3 linked regions of the Homo sapiens genome follow. The protein of the gene in region 3 interacts with the protein of the main gene of each other region in a biochemical or structural test. Each region holds a gene or a part of one and is shown on either strand. Other genes may lie near its edges.

What was found. Proteins that work in one complex are often made in the same cells at the same time.
Region 1: the proteins of ASAP1 (region 3) and TEC form a complex in vitro, tested with the Homo sapiens proteins (one study listed by IntAct).
Region 2: the proteins of ASAP1 (region 3) and PSTPIP1 form a complex in vitro, tested with the Homo sapiens proteins (one study listed by IntAct).

What each region holds. Positions count from the first base shown.
Region 1 is NC_000004.12:48,140,831-48,147,857, forward strand, and holds part of TEC (tyrosine-protein kinase Tec), read right to left. Parts: intron 5,570-7,027; coding exon 5,495-5,569; intron 4,750-5,494; coding exon 4,578-4,749; intron 4,466-4,577; coding exon 4,249-4,465; intron 590-4,248; coding exon 525-589; intron 1-524.
Region 2 is NC_000015.10:76,998,107-77,005,133, reverse strand, and holds part of PSTPIP1 (proline-serine-threonine phosphatase-interacting protein 1), read right to left. Parts: intron 1-7,027. UniProt on the Homo sapiens protein: Involved in regulation of the actin cytoskeleton. May regulate WAS actin-bundling activity. Bridges the interaction between ABL1 and PTPN18 leading to ABL1 dephosphorylation.
Region 3 is NC_000008.11:130,433,653-130,440,679, forward strand, and holds part of ASAP1 (arf-GAP with SH3 domain, ANK repeat and PH domain-containing protein 1), read right to left. Parts: intron 6,691-7,027; exon of another isoform or gene 6,637-6,690; intron 1-6,636. UniProt on the Homo sapiens protein: Possesses phosphatidylinositol 4,5-bisphosphate-dependent GTPase-activating protein activity for ARF1 (ADP ribosylation factor 1) and ARF5 and a lesser activity towards ARF6.

The DNA.
Region 1 (7,027 bases), on a different chromosome or scaffold from region 3:
GGTCTTCTGATTCACCCTCTTCCTCAATGTAAGCTGCATGCGGGCAAGGACTTGTAGGTCTTATTCTCTATATGGTTCAGCTTATCATTATGCCTGGCACAGAGCAGGCACCTGATTTTTTATGGGTGGATGTATGGATGAATGAATGGATAGACGGAGGGAGAAGAGAGAAAAAATAAACTAAATACCTTTAAAAGGTATTTTATAATACTATTAAATTATAAAAATTAAGAGAAGAAAAACACTGCAGACATGGACATACTAAGAACCTCACCACCAAATATGTTTTTGTGAAAACAAAAGATTCTAGAAATCTAATCCACACCAGGAAATACAGTGTATTTAACAGGCTATACTACCACCTAGTGGAGAGAATTACTACCATCACAATATATACTTAATTTAATCTGAGAACCAGTTAACAAGATTTCCTTTCTGCTTCATCAGTGCAAATTATTCCCACACTTATTAATTCCACCAAAAAAATGCAAACATCACCTAAAACCACGTATACTTGGACATACCTGGCCATTCCAAAATCAGATACTTTTACAACTCCCGCCTCACTTACTAGACAATTTCTGGCAGCCTGGAAAACAACATTATGATGGTATATTAGTTTAAAAATTCTATCATTTAAGTAGGAAAATGTAAGTTCTATTTATATTAAATTTAGTGTAACCTAGTCAACATTTGCAGAGAGTGGAAACACCCTTTAATAAGTTGTTTTTACCCCTATGGAAGTATTTCCATTGTGTATTTGAAAAAAATGAATAGGCAGGTCAGAAAGTTGTATTTGCAATAAGGCATTATTACATAATCTTTACCAATTGTCTTTTTTTTTTCTTTTCTTTCTTTTTTTTTTTTTTGAGACAGAGTCTGCCTCTGTCGCCCAGGCTGGAAGTGCAGTGGCACAATCTTGGCTCACTGCAACCTCCACCTTCCAGTTTCAAGTGATTCTTCTGCCCCAGCCTCCAGAGTAGCTGGGATTACAGGCACCCACCACCACAGCCAGCTAATTATTGTATTTGTTGGCCAGGCTGGTCTTGAACTCCTGACCTCATCCATCTGCCTCGGCCTCCCCCATTGTTAGGATTATAGTCACGAGCAACCTCACCGGCCAACTGTCATTCTTAAACAAGGGCTAATAGAAGGGTCAACTCACTTTTCTCCTTCCCAGACCTGTTCTTATTAAACTATCCAATTTTCTTACTGACAATGAGAACATCTCTTGAAGTCCTTAATCCGGTTCTCACTAGGTGAGCTTAATAACACACAACCATCAAAATGATGGGCGACCAATCTCTTATCCAATATTTCTGCTCAGTGATTGGTCATCTCATCCCAGTCAAAGAACAGGCTGGGTGCAGTGGCTCACGCCTGCAATCCCAACATTTTGGGAGGCTAAGGCGGGTGGATAACTTGAGGTCAGGAGTTCGGGACCAGCCTGGCCAACATGACAAAACCCCTTCTCTACTAAAAATACAAAAAAAATTAGCCAAGTGTGGTGGCACACAACTGTAGTACCAGCTACCTAGGACTGGAGGCAGGAGAATTGCTTGAACCCATGAGGTGGAGGTTGCAGTGAGCAGAGATCGCGCCACTGCACTCCAGCCTGGGTGACAGAGCAAGACTCCGTCTCAAAAAGAACAGCTATGTGTAAATACAGTTTGCTTTTTCATTTATGTTCCCAGTATATTATAACATGATGTACAAAATTGGTCAAATACAATTGTGGATTATTTAATTTATATTTTCTTGCATGTTCTTCAAGGTTACAAGGTTTAAGAAAATAGTTTGATAGAAAGACGTGGTATTTCTCAAAAGGAAGACAAGAATTTTTTTTTAATTTTTTAATTTTTTATTTTTGAAACTGAGTCTCGCTCTGTCACCAGGCTGGAGTCCAGTGGTGCGACCTTGGCTCACTGCAACCTCCACCTCCTGGGTTCAAGTGATTCTTCTGCCTCAGCCTCCCGAGTAGCTGGGACTACAGGCGTCTGCCACCACGCCTGGCTAATTTTTTTTGTATTTTTAGTAGAGACAGGGTTTCACCATGTTTGCCAGGATGGTCTCGATCTCTTGACTTCGTGATCCGCCCGCCTCGGCCTCCAAAAGTGCTGGCATTACAGGCGTGAGCCACCACACCTGGCCGATAATATTTTTAATACCATAACCCATAGACCAAGATATGTTTTTCTTCCTGACTGTTCATAATTCTATTTTCTCTATGTGGCAATTCCACTCATATGAGGTTCCTTCTTGCTGAGTGCATTTTAAGAGTCTTATAAAGTGAGAGTTAATATCCATTCCCTGGACTGCCTGCATCTTCCTATGAAAACACTTCACAACTCCACAATGCCTGCACTGGATGGTCAACAGGATTCTTTACCAAGGAGACAAGAGCATCCAAAGTTTCCCATAAGGGGTGACACAAACCTACCATAGTAATACCAATATCACAGGCACAGAAATGTAAGAATCGTTTTTGCCAAAACATCATCTGTGTGGACAGGTGTAATCTGCCACACCCACGTAGATACTCAGTTTTTATCAGTTTTATAAGGACATCTATTTTGTTCTTAGTTCTTAGTTCACAAGTTTTAACTGACGAGATGTTCTTCATCATCCCTGACACAATGATAACAATAACTGATGTTATCTACAGCATGTCTATTTTACAAAGCCCATTGCCCCAGTCAAATAATGTGACCTTTAAAACAGTCCTGGAAGCCAAACAACATTATAACCCACAATTTACAGACACAGAAACTGAATATAAGATAAGGTAAGTATCCCAAAACACACCTAGGAAATAAAGTGTTCCATCTCCAAATCTTCAATTCTCTAATATGTTTTAATTCTAGAGAGCATAGCATAGTAGTTAAGTAGGGACTTTAGAGCCAAACTTCCTGGGTTCAAATCCTGGCTCTACAATTTACTTGCCCATTGGAAGTTATTTTATCCTATTTGCACCTCAGTTTCCTCATCTGTAAAAAGGGAATAATAAGAAAATCTACTTCCCAGAATTATGATTAAACAAGTTTATTTGTAAAATACTTATCAGAACAATGTCTGTCTAAGGTGACTGTTAACTTTAAAAAATGTTTTGCTAAGGCCAGGTGCAGTGGCTCACACCTGTAATCCTAGCACTTGGGAGGCTGAGGCAGGCAGATTGCTTAAGCTCAAGAGTTCGAGACCAGTCTGAGCAACACGGTGAAACCCCATCTCTACAAAAATTAGCCAGGCATGGTGGCACGTGCCTATAGTCTCAGCTACTTGGGGGCTGAGGCAGGAGGATCGCTTGAACCCGGGAGGTTGAGGCTGCAGTGAGCCAAGATTGCGCCACTGCACTCCAGCCTGGAAGACAAAGTGAGACCTGTCTCAAAGGAAAAAAAAATTTTTTTAAAGTTTTTCTGCTTTCTAAAAGAAATGTGTCCATGCTTTATCACTAGAAAGCTAAAACTAAAATATGGGAGAAAGTCCCAAATGAAAATTACACTCTTCTTGGTAAAAGAATTATTTTCAGGGGACAGACAGTGCTACCGATATGCTGAAAACAGACATTTTCAGCTGATTATTTTCAGGGGACAGAGTGCTACTGATAGCTGAAAGCATCTGTAAAGAACAGGTAGAGAAGAAAAACAGAAGGAAAAGAAGAATGGAGGAGAGAGTGAGAACAGGTGAGAAGGGAAAAATTGTCTCCATCATAATTTAGAACTGGTAACGGATTTCTTTTTCTAGCATTTTGAGAAGTTAACATGAACCTCCATGTTTTCCCAGTGATTTGAGAGATTTTTTAAAAATCCAAAGGATTTCTCTTATAGTTTCTTTTTATAGTGTGTGAGGTGGAAAAGAACTTGGGCTCTAGTTAGAAAGTCAAGGCCAACCCCAATTTCCCTATTTATCACAGTAGGCGAGCCTTTTGACTTCCCTGAAGCTAATTTTCTCATCTGTACAAGAATGATGGTAAGAGAATCCACTGTGAGTAGCTATCTCATGGGATTCTTATGGAGATCGAAAAATTAAAACATGGAAACTTGCTTGGAGATATTAACTAAGTAAATCATTAGATTGAATAAAGATCTTTCGTTTAAAATTACAGGGCAAGTTAAATTTACCAACTTTAAAAATAATGGTGAAAGATTGTTAAGAACAAAAATTGGCTATTAATACATCATTGCACATTTGCTGAGCCAGTGTTACAAAGGAATTCAGCCAATGAGTGGGAATATGGGTGGCTAGGGTTACCAGATCTCTGTGGATGAAGCTGTTTCTCTCCAGATACTCCATCCCTTCACACACATCCTGACACATGCTCAGCAGTACGTCTCTACTGAAATGACCTTGTCTCTGTCGGAGGAAATTCAGAAGGCAGCCCCTTTCCATGAACTCAGTAACAATGTATATTGGTTTCTGCTGGGTGCACACACCATAAAGCTGCACTAACTTCGGGTGTGTCAGTTTCCTGGGAAGGAAGACATATATATAGTTACTATAGGAAAAGAAACTACCAAGTTTTTGGTAAGGGGCCACTTCTTAATACAAAAAGATGAGCCAGAAAGATGATAGCAACTTACATCATCACTTTAGCTTCTTCTATAAAGTCCTCCTCGCACATTGCACCTTCCCGAATAGCTTTGATTGCGACTTTGTACTGGGCTCGCCATTTGCCAAGCCTCACCACTCCAAACAGTCCACTTCCCAATTCCCTCATAAAGGTCAGTTCTGAAGGGTTAATCTCCCATTTCTCTGCAGGACAGAAAGTGAAAGTGTTCATATTTAAAAAGGAAAATGTAGCATGAATCAGAGAGGGGGAAAAAGAACCTACAACCAAGATCAACCTCAAAATTACAGGATAACACTGTAATAATTCCTGGTAAAACACAGAACAGACTTGAAACCTGCATCTGAACTGCCAAAGGTGGGAAGGATGAATCCCTTCTAACCAACGTGAAATGAAGAAGGCAAGACAATTCTGCATAACAAGCTAATAATAATATAGCCTGAAAGTTAAAGGTACTTTTGTCAAACAAATACTTCCTTCTTTACCACTCTTCCTTCTCAGGTTTTTTTTTTGTTGTTGTTCTTTTTCAATTCCATCAAGTTGGAAATAATCTAATTTGCTGTTTTAAAGGCTTTTGCCAGAAGCAACAAAGACAATTAAGTTGGAAGCTTGCTTTCTTACCTCCATCCTTACTCACGTTCTTGTAGCCAATAAAGCTAGTGAGAACCAGGAAGGGCTTTGATTTATTTTAGATGTTAACATGATAATGCTTATTTTTCACTGACAGAAAGTTTTCTATGGAATTATGAATAATGATGAAAATTGAATACCTAGGCTGCTATGGTCTTAAGTATAATTATCTAAAAACCTATACTATAAACTTATAAAAAACAGTTCCAGTATGTGAAATAGTACACATCCAAATTTATCTTATGACAATGGATTCTTTTCAAGGAAAATTAGCTCATGCAACCACAAAATAAGAGTTACCATAGCTGAATCCTGCAGTGGTGGGTGCATTCTTCCCTTTCACACTAACTGGGTACCGAAGCCTGGTGACAAGTCCTAATAATCAAAGAAAGCGTTGCAGTCAAACTCATTCATAATCATTCTGCTTGGTCACATGCTACAGGAAACTCACTTAGAAAATTCATCATTTATTCATTTACTGCTCATCCTCTGTGTGTACATACAGCACTCTGCTATATGCTTTTATTCATTCAACAAACATTTTCTTTTAAATACTACAGTGTTTAACAGGCACCATGCCAGCTTTCTCTTTTTTCAAATATTTTAAAGGATGTTAAAAGGTTTCTAACAGTTATTTCGTGTTCTTTTCCAATATGAGAGCTGAACTATGAAAGGGAATTAGATTAGTCTGCTAAAAATGGAAGTTATTCACCTGACATGACTCAGTATTAGCAATCTTAGCATACAAATCGGGCTCTAGGATAGCAACAACTGGGAATACCAACTACTGGAAATCAGTGTGGATCTTTTAACCCAAGTCGCATACAGCACTAAATAAGAAACAGGAGATGTCTCTTCCATAAACACCCATAGCACTCTGTATTTCCTCTACTACAAGATATCTCAAAGCAATTTAAAATCGTTATGTACTTCTCTGTCTCCCCACAAGTGGTAGGGTCTGGGAAAATCAGGATCAGTGACTACACCTAGTCCACCACTGAAATATTGAAGTCTCCCCAAAGCCTGGCTCTGTTTCTGGCATGCAGTAGGCACTTGATATATGTTTGTTGAATGAATTGAGATGACGGTGAAAAATAAAACTTATACAGGAACACGGAAGAAAAAATTAGGGAGCAAAAACACCAAAAAAGAAAACAACAGAATGAGATATAAATTGATATGAAATCAGTTCCTGAAATGTTAAACACAGAGTTACCATATGACGCAGCATACCCATAACTAGGTAAATACCCAAAAGAAATGAAAACATATTTCCATGCAAAAACTAGTACACAACTGTTTACAGAAGCATTATTCATAAGAGAACAAATGTGGAAACAACCCAAATGTCCATCAACTGATGAATAATAAAATCCATACAATGAATTATTTGTATACCTGGCCACAAACCAATTTCTAACAATGTGTTCAGGAAGTCCATCACAGCAATAAACATTAATGGCAATTTACATTGTCTAGAATCCCTAGTGATATTGTCAGCAATTTTTTTCCTTAACATCGTTATATCTATAGTTTGTACATATCTAGGCTATGTCTTGGCTTCCATAAGTAGATGAAGCATGACTTTCTAATACAACAGGTGGATGGTAAGATAATCCCCCTATATTTGGAGATAGAGGGGTTGATCCTGTCTCACCATTTAGCATTATTATACTCAATTTGAAACTGTTATTTTATTTAAGAGTTAAATGTAGACTTGTATGCTGGCCTGAGAACCTAAGCATTCCACAAATATTGTGTTAGGCTCTGGGTTGTAACTCAATAATAGGTAGAAGTTATTGTGCAATTACTATGTGTCAAGCCCTGTTCATT
Region 2 (7,027 bases), on a different chromosome or scaffold from region 3:
GGGATTATAGGCATGAGCCACCATGCTTGGCCAGCAATGGTAATTAATTACCACAATTATCTATGTTGATGCCTCTCAAGCTAAAGTTCCACATGGAGGCACTGGGGAACTTTGAAAAATACTGATGTCCAGGTCCTACCCTCAGAAATCGGGGTGTAATTGACCTGGGGTGTGGCCTGGGCATTGGGATTTTTTAGAATGACAGTCCTACAAGATCTGGCTCTCTGCTTCTCTTTTCTTTCTTTGTTTTTTTTGTTTGTTTGTTTGTTTGTTTTGAGACAGTCTTGCTCTGTTGCCCAGGCTGGAGTGCAGTGGTGCGATCATACAGTCACTACAGTTTCCAACTCCTGGGCTCAAGTGACCCTTCCACTCCAGCTTCCCAAGTAGCTGAGACTACAGGTGTGCACCACCAGGTACAGCTAATTTTTGTACTTTTTTTTTTTTTTAAGAAGTGGTTTCACCATGTTGCCCAGACTGGTCTTGAACTCCTGGGTTCAAGTGATCTTCCCACCTCAGCCTCCCAAAGTGCTGGGATTACAGGTGTGAGCCACCACGCCTGGCCACTGTTCTATTTCTTACCTTATCTCCAACTACTCTCCACCTTGGTCACTCTCTCTAGCCACGCAGGCATGCTCTTGCCTCAGCCCATCACCCCCTGACTTCCTCCCCAGTGTGGCTGTTTCCCGTTCCTGTTTCCACAGCTGGGAAGCCCTGAGTTCCATCTGGCCACCACATCCCCACACTGGCTGCTGGTCTCCAGGGCTCCAGCTGGCACTTCCTGTTGCCCAATGGTGGGTGGCCTGTCAACACCAGTGGAAGGAGCTGTCGCTCTCCTGCCTGTTCCATCACCCATTGCTCAGTGTGCCAGGCCTCAGCAAACCAACACACCCTCCCATTAACTGCAAAGGGCTCTCTGACCCAGACCTGGGAAGGTGGCATCCAGGCCCAGCCCAGTCCGATCCATCTGTGTGGCATCCCCCAGGCCCACATTCCTTCCAAGAGGCTCAGTTTCCTCTCTGTAAAACAGGAATAAGAATACTGACCTCACAGGACTATTGTTGGAATTAAGTGAGATAACATAGATCATCTTGTTACTTGAAACCAAAGGAATGATTCTCTAATGGTGGAGTATAACATGCAATGGTGAACATGATTGGAGGAGGCATTCTGAAACAGCAAGATCTATGTATAAGGCTCACCCTATGGGTGCATATCCAATTATAAATCTGGGTCCCCTGGGAACTGTTCCTGGTCTGCTACTCCACTGTGGTGAGCAGGAGGTGGTCCCTTAGCACTGCCCTGAGCCGCCCCAACCTCAAAGCCCTTATCTTAAGTGATGACGACCCTGACATCCTGCAGATGAGGAAACTGAGGTTCAGAAAGGGAAAATGATTCTCCAAGGCCACCTAGCAAGTGTGGGTGAGGGTTGGGTGAGGCTTCAAAGAAGCCCGCTTCCTTCTTCTTCTTTTTTTTTTTTTGAGACGGAGTTTCGTTCTTTTGCCCAGGCTGGAGTGCAATTGTGAAACCTCAGCTCACTGCAACCTCCACCTCCTGGGTTCAAGCGATTCTCCTGCCTCAGCCTCCTGAGTAGCTGGGATTACAGGCATGCGCCACCATGCCCCGCTAATTTTTTTGTAGTTTTAGTAGAGACAGGGTTTCACCATGGTGGCCAGGCTGGTCTCGAACCCCTGACCTCAGATGATCCACCCGCCTCGGCCTCCCAAGAAGCCGATTTCCTTCTAAGCCTGGAGGATGGAGCATGACTGAGTCTGTGAGGGAGGAACCTTCCAGAGCCAACCCAGAGGAGAGTCCTGGTGTGGGCAGCCCAGGGCCCAGGGCATCATGCTCTCTAGCTGGAAGCAGAGGCAGTCTTGGTTTCCACCCAAAGTTCCCTCCATCATGTGGTTTGCAGCGTCAGCCAGGCTCTGGGTGAGGAGGAAGGGCATCCCACTCACAGCCCGCAGCCTCTGTCCTCTTTTGCATGAGAGGAAACAGCCACCACCAGAGAGGGTGCAGAGAGGCAGAAGAAAGTATCTCTGCCACCACTTAGGGCAGAGACCTTTCACAATCCAGCTCGTGCCTTCCCTTCCTACCAGTCACCTTGCACAATGCTCTGGGCCAGAAAACTGTCTTCCAAACCCCCTTCCACACCTTTGCCCATGCCGTACCTCCCACCTTGAGTGCCGTTTGTCCTCCTGACATGTCTCAAATCCTCACCCACCCTTCAAAGCCCAAAGCAAGGCCCTCCTTCTCCATCCCAGGGGCTGCCCTAGTTCTGTGTAGATGTCAGGAGCAGCCAGGAAAAGCATGTGGGTTCCAGGGGACTGGAGCACAAAGTGGGTCATCAAGAAGCAGATCTTGTTTTTTATCAAGAATAAAATTGAATTCAGAACACCAAATCGACCCAGAACCCTGCAGCCAGCAAATCCTGGCAGTGACCATCTGCAGGCATCGCAAAAGCAAAGCAAGCATGACCACAAACCTCTGCAATCTTCTAACACCTGAGCAGCCGGCCACGTCCTGTGGAATGGGCACAGATGAACGAAGTTCTTGGTCCCCAGAGGCCCACGTACCACAAAATATGCACCGAGCATGTGGAAAAGGGCATGCTAGCAAACCACAAATTTGGCCTAGAAACACCAACTCATTCTTGAAAGCAGGAATTGCTTAGTTTTCTTTTTAAATATTTTCTTTTTAATGACAAAGGTACTCTGTATTGACTTGCAGAAAATTAGATGGGGGATGGAGAGAATCCTACTTCCAAATCCATAGACACCAGTGTTAACATGTAGGGAAGCATCCTTTCATCCTACACAAATTAAAGTAGAAGCAAGAACAAACTCTCTAGAATTCAGGGCAGAGGGCAATAGAGTTCGACAGACCTAGGTGGGAGTCCCTGCTCTACCCTGCACAGGTGACCCTCGTCTGGGCCTAGACCTGCCGTGCCTTAGGTCCCATCACAGAGTCAGGAAGACACTGACAATGCGTTTGGGGGCATGTGGACTGAATGGCAGCATGCCTGGCATGGAACAGGCACTCAGCAAATGGCAGCATTGCTGCTCCTCAGGGGATGATGTAAGTAGCTGGGATTCAGGGAAAAATTCTTCATGGGACTTGAAATAAATGTCCTCTTTTTCATTTTTAATTGTTTGATTTAATTTTTGAATAATTAATACATTCATATGGTTCAAAAATCAAACAGTATAAAAACATCAATCCTGAAAACGTTCACAGCCGCTCAGCCTCATCCCTCATCCATCTCCTTTCTCTCATTCTCCCAACAGGCAACCACTTTAATTAGCTCCCTGTGCATCCGTCCACAGATTTTTGTTGTTAATACTACAAGCCTGCGCCAGTATAAATGCTTATTTCCCCACTTTTCACAACGGGTTGCCGACCAGGTGCACTGCCAGGCTCTCTGCTTTTTACAGGGAACACCAGGTCTTAAAGAGCTTTCCCAATCAGGAAAGGGAGAGCCTCCGTCCTCACTGCTTCTGACAGATGCAGCCAGGCAGGTGCCGGGAAGGTACTTGGTGGCAGCAAAGGCAGGATGGCCAGGGCCTCTCTCTCCCACCTCCTGCACTGTCTGCAAGCTCTGAGTGCACCAGGGCCACTCCTCAGCCACTGGCCTCCTTGGCCCTCAAAGCCACAGCAGTTTGCTGGGCTGCAAGGCCTTCCACAAAGTCAGTGCAGGCTCTGGTTTCCAGCAGGGCCCCATCCACAGGCCCTGACCCTTCCAGGCCATTCTGGGGTCCCTCCTTCCTGTGTGAAAAAGCTCCTGCCCAACCAGAGGACTATGGGGGATCCCAAAGTGACTGCTAGTACCCATGGCTGGAGAACTGGCCCCACTCTTTCACCCAGAAATGCCTCCTTCCCTGGAAAATAGCCATTAGCCTCCTCTGCCCAAAGAAATAATCCCCAAGTGAAAAACCTTTATAGTCAAAGATCTACCCATGGTGTCACTGTCCAGAATAATAAATAATTGGCAGTAACCTAAATGTTCAGCAGTGGAGGACTGGGCAAAAAAAATCACAGCATGGTCACCAAATTCACAAGCTAGAGAACTGTGCAGCCATGAACAGTGGTGTTGCTGAAAATGAGGAACCCATGTCCACACCCACAGGTGTTCCCGATGGAGTGAGTTACGCTAAAAAAAGGGGAGGGTGGCAAAGTGTGAACAAACCTAGCGCTACTGAACCATACACCACAAAAATGGTTAAGATGGTACATTTTATGTGTATTTCGCTACAATTTAAAATAAAATTTAAAATACTAGAAAAAAAAAGGAGGGAGGGCCGTGCATGGTGGCTCACGCCTGTAATCCCAGCACTCTGGAAGCCAAGGCAGGAGGATTGCTTGAGCCCAAGAGTTTGAGACCAGCCTGGGCAACACAGGGAGACCTCATCTCTGCAAAAATAAAAAATTTGTAAAAGAAAGGGAAAATACAAAATTATGTACACAATATGCTTGCACCTATGTAAGGCAATCTTATGCAAACACAGCATAATATTAGCAGTTGTGTGATGAGACTAAAGGTGCTTCTTCTTTTCCTATTTTTCTCCATTTCCCCACTTTCCTTTTAGGATCTTATATTAGTTGATTTTGTTTCTTTAGAAAGTGTGTGTGTGTATGTGTGTGTGTGTGTGTGTGTGTGTGTATATATATATATATATCTCTCTTTAAATGCCCAGGATGGAACAGGTGCCCAGCAAATGTCAGGCTCTCCTGATGCCCCTGGGCCATGGTAGACAGGTCTGGGGGTAGGGACAGGCAGCTTTATGACAGATCAGAGTAGGGCCCCTCAGTCCCCTTCTCTGTAGCCTCATAAATGGGCACCTCAGCATCTCAGAACTGGGAAGGGAAAAGGCACCAGTGGCTGAGTGCCACATAGGGAAGGGGCAGACCAGCCCAGCTGGTCCCACTGTGTGAAGCTGGTGAGTCACTGCCCCACTCGGCAGCGGTGCTGTCACCTGTTAAATGGGCTTGGGGAGGCTCAGCTCCTCCCAGTGTGGCACAGGGGTTTCTAGATAGAGCCAGAGCCCAGCCTCAAAGGAGAGATACACCCACATGTCAAGGGGAAAGTTCAGGCCTATTGTCCCCATACCCCCTTGGTGGTTCCCACCCAAAGGGTGGGTGACAGTCACTGCAGTGCATGTGACCCAGCCTCCCCAGGTCCTTACTTTTCCTTTTAACTACCCTAAAAGGAATAGGATGTGGATCTCAATAGAATCTGGTCCAGAACTAGATTTTCCCTCTTAAAACAATATCTAATGACATCTTTGCAAAGGCCATTGGATAGACATACAGGTTGCGGGGGATGGGGGACCTGGGAGAGGATGGCACAGTTGAGATACTGCTCCTCTCAGAGCACTCCTTGCCTGACCCAGTTATTCCTCCAGCCCCGGCACTGAACTATGGCTTCCTTCAGGTCAAGACAGTTTCATTCATCTGATTAGATGTTGCAGGGTGAAGAAGCTCAGGGGTCCAGCGTGGACCACCTAGTAGACAGCCCTACTCACCAAATATTTGCAGAATATAACAAAAGTGAAATGTAGTGCTGGGCGCGGCGGCTCACGCCTGTAATCCCAGCACTTTGGAAGGCTGAGGCGGGTGGATCATCTGAGGTCAGGAGTTCGAGACCAGCCAGGCCAACATGGTGAAATCTCATCTGTACTAAAAATACAAAAATTAGACAGACGTGGCGGCGCACGTCTGTAATCCCAGCTACTCGGGAGGCTGAGACAGGAGAATCACCTGACCCCAGGAGGCGGAGGTTGCAGTGAGCTGAGATTGTGCCACTGCCCTCCAGCCTGGGTGACAGAGTAAGATTCTTTCTCAAAAAAAAAAAAAAGTGAAATGAAGTAAAAAATGGGTTCAGGAAGGGAGATGGACCATGGAGACATTCACTGTCCATTCATTTATTCTATGAACACGTCCTCAGCCAGTACCCCACTTGTCAGCCCTGTGCAGAGGATACAGACAGACATTTCTTGCAATAATTTGGCCACCTGCTGGGAGTGGAGCCACGACAAACTGGGGGCAGGGGGAGGACCCTTCCTTCTCTGGGCTTCCCAGCGCCTTAGACTCAGTGCTAGGCCAGTGCCCTCTCCGCTCAGACAGCTGGTATTCTCAGATTCAACCTTGTCTCACTGACAGGTCCCACTCTGAGGCTCATTTACAAACTTCCTGCCAAGGTGTGATGCTCTTTATCATCTGTGTGTATCACAGAAATCACATTATCCCTTCCCTCCCTCTGTGGCTGGTCCGCCCTGCCTCACTCCTACAGCAGCGTGCATCTGAACACTCGGCTGCAGCTAAAATCAGGCTATAAATAAATACTGTGTGGCCACACTGACAAAATTGCAAAAACAGGCCGACTGAGGGACAGGACTGTGTCTGCTCCCATGCTGAGTGTCCCCACTACTTCTGTGCCACTACAGCTGCTTTTCAGACTGTTTCTGTCTCCTTCCTTGCAATCAGGCTGCTAGCTGCCTGTGAAACGTCCTTTCGTAGTCCAGGTCCATCAGCATTTATCCATCGCCAACTGTATATCAGGTACTGTGCAGACTGCCACTAATTGCTACATCTATAGGCTAAAAGACCCCATGACCAAGCTCATTAAAATTGTGGGTGAAATTAGAGTTCATAGGACCTGAGTAAAAGCTAGGGGACATCTCCTAGGAGTGTAGTATATGAGCTTTAAGGAAAGCTCTTAGGGAAATCATCTTTGGCTCCTGAGAAACCACTTTTGCTTCCTCCCTTACTGTGAGCTAAAGCCAGAAACAGCAGGGCTGGCTCCCCTCCTCCGCCCCGTGTTCTGTATGGGTGAGGTTGCCCAATAACTGAGGGGCTGTGATATCAAACATGATCTTTCCAGTTTAGCCAAAGTAGGGTCCCTCCACTCTGTCAGCTCTGTCACCCAGGCTAGAGTACAGTGGCACAATCTCAGCTCACTGCAACCTCTGCCTCTTGGGTTCAAGCTGTTCTCCTGCCTCAGCCTCCCAAGTAGCTGGGATTACAGGAGCAT
Region 3 (7,027 bases):
AATGAAAACTCTTAAAAGTGAATTCACTCTTTCATGCTTCTTCTCCCTACTGATCATGCAAATGAGAATTCTTATCTCATTTTGAAACCCACTAATTTTTGTTTAGTACCAGTTACGTGCCAGGCACTCGCTTAGCCACTTTCCTTATATATTGCTTTATTTGACACCCTTAAAAAACTGTGAGAGTTTTCACAATTTACAGACTAGAAAACTAAAGCTTAGGCAGGCTAAGAGAAAGGCTAAAAGCAGACTCTTCCAAGGCCACATGAAGAATTAAGGCGTGGAATTAAAATTCAAGTCTGTAGAGGCAATATTGTATCGTGGTCAAGAGTATGGGTATTGAACACAGATCGCCTTGCTTAAAATCTTGCCAATTACAAGGGCCAAGCATGGTGGCTCACACCTGCAATTCCAGCACTATGGAAGGCCAAGGCAGGTGGATCACTTGAGTCCAGGAGTTCGAGACCAACTTGGGCAACACAGCAAAACCCCATCTCTACTAAAAATACAAAAATTAACTGTGCCTGGTGGCGCACACCTGTGGCCCCAGCTATTAGGGAGGCTGAGGTGGGAGGATCACTTGAACCTGGGAGGATTACTTGAACCTGGGATTGCAAGGATGCAGTGAGCTGCCATAGCGCCACTGCACTACAGCCTGGGAGACAGAGTGAGACCTTGTCTCAAAAAAGAAAAAAAAAATCTTGCCACTTACTAACTATATGACCTCAGGGAAGTTAGCTAGGCTCTGCGTATTTCAGGTTCGTCGTATATAAAATGGGAGTTAGAAATAGCGCCTATTTCATAGGGTTATTATGAGGATTAAATGAGCTCATAGAGGAAAACTGCTTACAACAGTAATGACACATATTAACGAGCAATACATAATAGCTATCACTATTGATTCCAAGTCCAGTGGTTTTCCCACAGCATCATGACAAATGCTCCTACCCTCCACCCGCCAAGTCACCTTAGGCAGGAAAGAATGACCTAGCCAAAGGACAGCCCACTGGAGGGGTCATGAGAACCACTGGCCAGAGGAGGAGCCGCAAAGAACAGTGGGTCAAAGATCACAAACGCAATGACATGCAAAAATTCCATCCCAGAACGGCTCTCTGTGACGGCTCGGCCCATATTGATGAGGTCCTGAGGGAACTTCTAGGGGAAAGGATATCACATGAGACAGGAAGCAGGTCAGCTCCCCAGTGCCCAAATACTGACCATACACCGAACAATAGCCCCTTAGCTCGAACAAGCTTTGAAGACCTGAAATGCTTACAGCCCATCCCCTGAAAACCCAGTGCCCACAGTGATTACAGGGCGAGGTGAAGGAAGTTCCCAAGGCAAGATGGCTGCTAGAAGGCACGTTGGCTGCTGGAAGGCACGCTGTCCCATCGGCCTTGAAGACAAGACTGACCCCTTACCCCTCCGAGGCTCCTACACTTCCATACTCATTATCGCGCTGTAACCTGGCGGGGAGGGTGACTCAGGACAGAAGCTACCATCCCCTTTACGCAGGTGGGGAACTGAGGTCCACAGAGGATAAATGGCTACTATTTGAGGTCACATAACTAGTCAGTATCCATTCCAAACTAGAATTCAGGACTTCTGAGTCTCAATTCAGTGATATTCTTCAGCATCTTAGTAAGTCTTTTGCGTCAGCATGCGTATTCTTCAAGCACATGCATTTTCTTTCTTTCTTCTGAAATGTTTATTGTCTTCCCTGTGCTAGACTTGGTGCTAGGCACTAGGGATTACAGAAATGATCAGGGCCCTACCACTGCCCTTGCACCTCCAGCAGGCACTGCAGCAGGTGAATGCACAGGACGCACTCAGTAAGTGCTTGCTGATATGAATCCAATTGTCTCATTACTAATGTTCTGTTACAGATTTCAGTTCTTTCTCCAAAAAGGCAATTTTTACATTTTTATAAATGTTCTTTCTTTTCCTGGTCTGAAAAAGAAGACTGAATATTAAGCTAGCTGGTTGCAACTTGGTGTCTCCCAGAATTAGAGGAGAACTGAGACCCCTTTATAAAATCAGGACCCTCAAAGAGATCAAAATCTAAATGATTTGATCTCTAAAATGAGGGCCTGAATTATTCCTCCCATCAGCCCAGAGAAATGGCAAGAAAGCAGGATCTGAGTAAGGAAAAAAGGCTTCCGTGCAGATTTTAAAGCCTCTGGGTGTGACTGTGGAATCCACCATACACCATTGGTCTGGGGTCAAAATATGGGCCCAGAAGCTCCCATAGAAACTTTTCCAGGACCCAGGAAACACTTAGGGCCTTTGCTGAAGCATAATACTGCTCTGTGGAGACATCTCTGCTACCCAAGATAGGTGGGGCTCTCCTGGGGCATGAGCCACTAAGCCCCCAAACCAGAAGACACAACAAATGGGAGAACTGGCTCCTCTAGAACGAACCTAGAGCAATGTGAAAGAGAACATTAGTATATTTAAAATGAAGATATAAAACACAAAACAGAAACCCTAAGGAAAGAAAAGGACCCAAGGATGGAAGGGCAGGCTGAACTGAAAGAGAACTAAGAATTTCTAAAAGTAAAATGTATAGTCATTAAAATTATAAACTCTCACCTGTAATCCTAGTACTTTGGAAGGCTGAGACAGGAGGTCCGCTTGAAACTAGGAGTTTGGTTTCTTTTGAGACATGGTCTTGTTCTGCCACCCAGGCTGGAGTGCAGTGGCACAATCTTGGTTCACTGCAGCCTCGACCTCCCTGGGCTCAAACAATCCTCCCACGTCAGCCTCCCGAGTAGCTGGGACTACAGGAGTGCACCACCATGTCTGGCTAATTTTTGTTATTTGTTTTTTGTTATTTTTGGAGAGGTGAGGTTTCACCATGTTGCCGAAGCTGGTCTCAAACTCCCGAGGCTCAAGCAATCCACCCGCCTTGGCCTCCCAAAGTGTTGGGCTTACATGCATGAGCCAGTGCACCTGGCCATTGAAGCCAGAAGTTTGAGACCATCCAAATATAAAAAATGAATAACCAGGCAAGGTGGCTCATGCTGGTAATCCCAGCAACTTGGGAGGCTGAGGCAGGAAGATCACTTGAGCCCTGGATTAGAGGCTGCAGTGTGCTATATTTGTGCCACTGCACTCCAGCTGGGGCAACACAGCAAGATCCTATCACTTAAAATAATAATAATATAAAAAATTAGGCTGGGAGTGGTGGCTTACTGTGATCCCAGCACTCTGGGAGGCTGAGGCAGGCGGATTACCTAAGGTCAGGAGTTCAAGACTAGCCTGGCCAACATGGTGAAACCCCATCTCTACAAAATACAAAAATTAGCCAGGCGTGGTGGAACATGCCTGTAATCCCAGCTACTCAGGAGGCTAAGGCAGGAGAATCACTTGAACCCGGGAGGGAGCAGTTGCAGTGAGCCAAAATCACACCACTGCACTCCAGCCTAGGCGACAGAGCAAGATTTCATCTCAAAAAAAAAAAAAAAAAAATTAAAAATTAAAACTCGATGAAAAAAGTTCAACAAATGTGGTAACACAGCTAAGCAGCTGAAGCCAATATACCTGACTCAGCCCCCTTGTTCAGTGCCTGTCATTTGCTGGGCACTGTGCTGGGCACAAAGGGCCAAGAGGAATAACATAGAGTCCCAGTTCCCAATCCCCTTCAAGATGCCCCAGCTCACAGGTGAGGAACTATATGAGCAAACACATTTCCCTGCAAGACAGCTGTAATAACGGCTACCATCTACGAGACCCTTGTGCTGGCTGCTTTTCTTACATTATCTCAGTTAAGTCAGTATGGTCAGTGCAAAAGAGAAGGACAGGTGGTGACTACAGTAGACCCCAGAATCTTCTGGTTTTCCCACCCACCGACCATTCCACTGAGCCATCCTGCATCCCCCAAGGTCTCAGGAGAGAACAACTATAATGGAATGCCTGGGCACCCTTTTTACATTTCTACTCAAAAGGAAATTATTTAGATAGATAGACTAACTACAATGAAATAGGCACACAGTGTTGTTACACACAGGACAAGTTTTTACAGAGGCAGAAGCCTTGACCAAAAATTCATGATTGGTTTTGAAAGAGGAAATGTCAACATCCCCCAGAAGCCGCGGGTGGGCGCTGTCTTGACGCCCTTCTTCCTGTTGTGCCCACGGCTGATCCTCCCCAGCTGGCTTCTGCGTAACTCCCACCACAGCTGGGGAAGTACTGACAGGCACTCTTCTTTATCCCAAACCAGGCTCCAACCAGGATCCCGCCACTGGAGGGACATACTTACTTTTGTTTTCCTAACTCTGTGCACCTTCGCACTTCCTGACTTAGGGCAGTGAAGGAAGAGGAAACACCAAAAATATTACAAGACAAGCTTAGTTTGTGGCATTTCCAAGAGATGGGAGCTGAAGGGGCTGGCAGGGTGACCCCAGGCAGCAGACGCCCTCAGTCGCTTTGTAACTCAGCTCGTCGGTGGCCAAGAGAGCTCATGTGCCTCTCCAAAGTGCTTAAGGTCTCAAGAAACCGTCTGTTTCTGGGGAGGATCTGGGACAGGAGCCCATTTTCTCTAAATAACTGAGAGGACTTCAGAAATCTGGTATTAATTACCCCTCGCAGCAACGTGGCTACACAGCACATCATGGTGTGTTTCCTTTACTCTCAGAAGATGGGGCCACCAGTGCGCCAGGCCCTCCAGTTGCTTCTTCCCCTAAGGACTCAGACGGATCTGTCCTAATCGAACCACACACTCCCTCCTGACCTCTCCTGGGGCCAATGGCCTGCTCTGGGAACAGGGCTGGCTGAGGTTAGGGACCTGGCTGCAGCTTTGGAACAAGGTTTTAGCCATACAAAAGGAACAACTGTAGGGATGCGTGCTGTGCTAGGAAATGGACTGGGGGCAGACTCTGAAGTCAGAGGACCCAGCTCACACCCTGCCCATCCCTTCCTGGGAGAGGACTTGGGGTACGAGGCGGGGAGCTGGTAGAGGGTTTGCATGGGTTGGTAAATTTAATTTTTTTCAAGAGGCTGGGTGAGAAATTAGTGTCCCTGGGTTGAAAGTGAACAATCGGGCCGACAGCTGAAGAATGCACAGTGAAATAAATCCTCAACTCCAACTCTCCACGGAGGCCTGGCACAGAGAAGAGCTCTGACGAAGGAGTGACTGTGAGGACACAGTGGAGGCTGACTCCCACAAGTGCATCACTACAGCCACGGTAAGATGTCCCTGACCCTCTCTTCCCCATGGGTTAGGAACCTCTCCCCAGAGCTCCCGTAACACCCTTCTTTCCCAGGCTGCAAAGATATCCTCATCCTAATCCCCAGGACCTGGGAACACATTAGGTTCCATGAGTTACATGGCAATGGAAAATGAAGGTTGCAGATGGAATCAAGGTTGCTAAGCTGTTGACCTTAAAATAGGGAGAGTAGCCTAGATTATACAGGTGGCCCAGTGGAATCACTTTAAGGGTCCTTCAAGGTGGAAGAAGATGCCAGAAGGGAGAATCAGAGAGATGGAAGCTTGAGAAGGATTAAGACCAACACTGCCGGCTTTGGAGGTGGAAGAAGGAAACCACAAGCCAAGATATGCAAGTGGCCTCCTGATACTGGAAAAGACAAGGAAACAAATTCTTCCCAGCGCTGCCAGGAGTAACATCCTCTGCTAACACCTTGATTTCAGCCCAGTGAGATCCATTCTAGACTTCTGACCTCCAGAACTGTAAGATAGTAAACTTGTATGATGTAAACCACTAAGTTTGGAGTAATTTGTTACCGCAGCAATAAGAAACTAATACACTATCATTATGCTTACCCTAATGTAATGCAATTTTTATTTATATGTCTATCACCCCCATCAATAATAATAATAATAGCTAACATTTGTCGAATTTACCCTTACTGTGAGCACTTATTATCTGGTAAGGCCAGCACCAAGTGTTTCATTCACATAAGATATTAAAAAAAAAAGGGTAACTTCAGTTGAACACACAATGAAGGTAAACACAGGGACTTAAGAGTAGGGGAGGGAGTTAAAAGCATCTTCGAGGAGATAAAGACACAGGTGCTTTTTAAAGATGAGTAGCAATTAGCCTGGGAGAGAGGAAGAGCATCCCCCGCAGGGGGAAGAACGTAAGCAGACACTCAGGGAAATGAAACACAGGGCATGTGCCGGCAAGCACTCTGGCAGCTCCACAGCAGGCTGGTAATAATGTCTCTAGCCTGTAAGTCTCCTCGGAGGTCCAGGCCTCCTGCCTGCCTGAAATCTCCACAGGATGCCTCCTAGACATCTCAAATTTAGGATGGCTGATACAGAACTTGATTTTCTCCATGAGCATAATCCTCCTAGTCTTCCTGTCTCCCACAACAACGCCACCATACACCCAGCTGTTCAAGCCAGAACCCCAGGAGTCACCCTTGAGTCCTTTCCCTTGCCTCATTCCAATGTAATCTATCACCAGATCTCATCAATGCTATCTCCAAGATCTAAGTAGGCTCCTCCCACTTCTCTCTACCTCCATTGCTGCTGTCCAGTTCTAAGCCACCATCCTCTTTCCTCCTAAGTGGTCTTCCTGCTTCTACACTTTGCCCCCTATGATCCATCCACTTTTCATAAAAGCAGTCAAAGCAATCTCAAAAATGTCCATCAGGCTGGCCATGGTCGCTCACCTGAGGTCAGGAGTTTGAGACCATCCTGATCAACACGGCGAAACCCCGTCTCTACTAAAAATATAAAAATTAGCCAGGTGTGGTGGTGCATGCCTATCATCCCAGCTACTCAGGAGGCTGAGGCAGGAGAATCACCTGAACCCAGGAGGCAGAGGTTGCAGTGAGCTGAGATCATGCCACTGCACTCCAGACTGGGCAACAGACCTAGACTCTGTCAAAAAAAAAAAAAAAAGAGTCAATCAGATATCACTGCTGAGCTTAAACTCACCAAAGCTTCCCTTTGTACTGGGTGGAGGGACTCTCCCCAGCATGGCTTAGAATCGGCTGTGTGATCTCGTCCCTGCTTCCCTCTCAAACCTCACCTTGCGCCATTCCCCCCATCTCTCCCTTA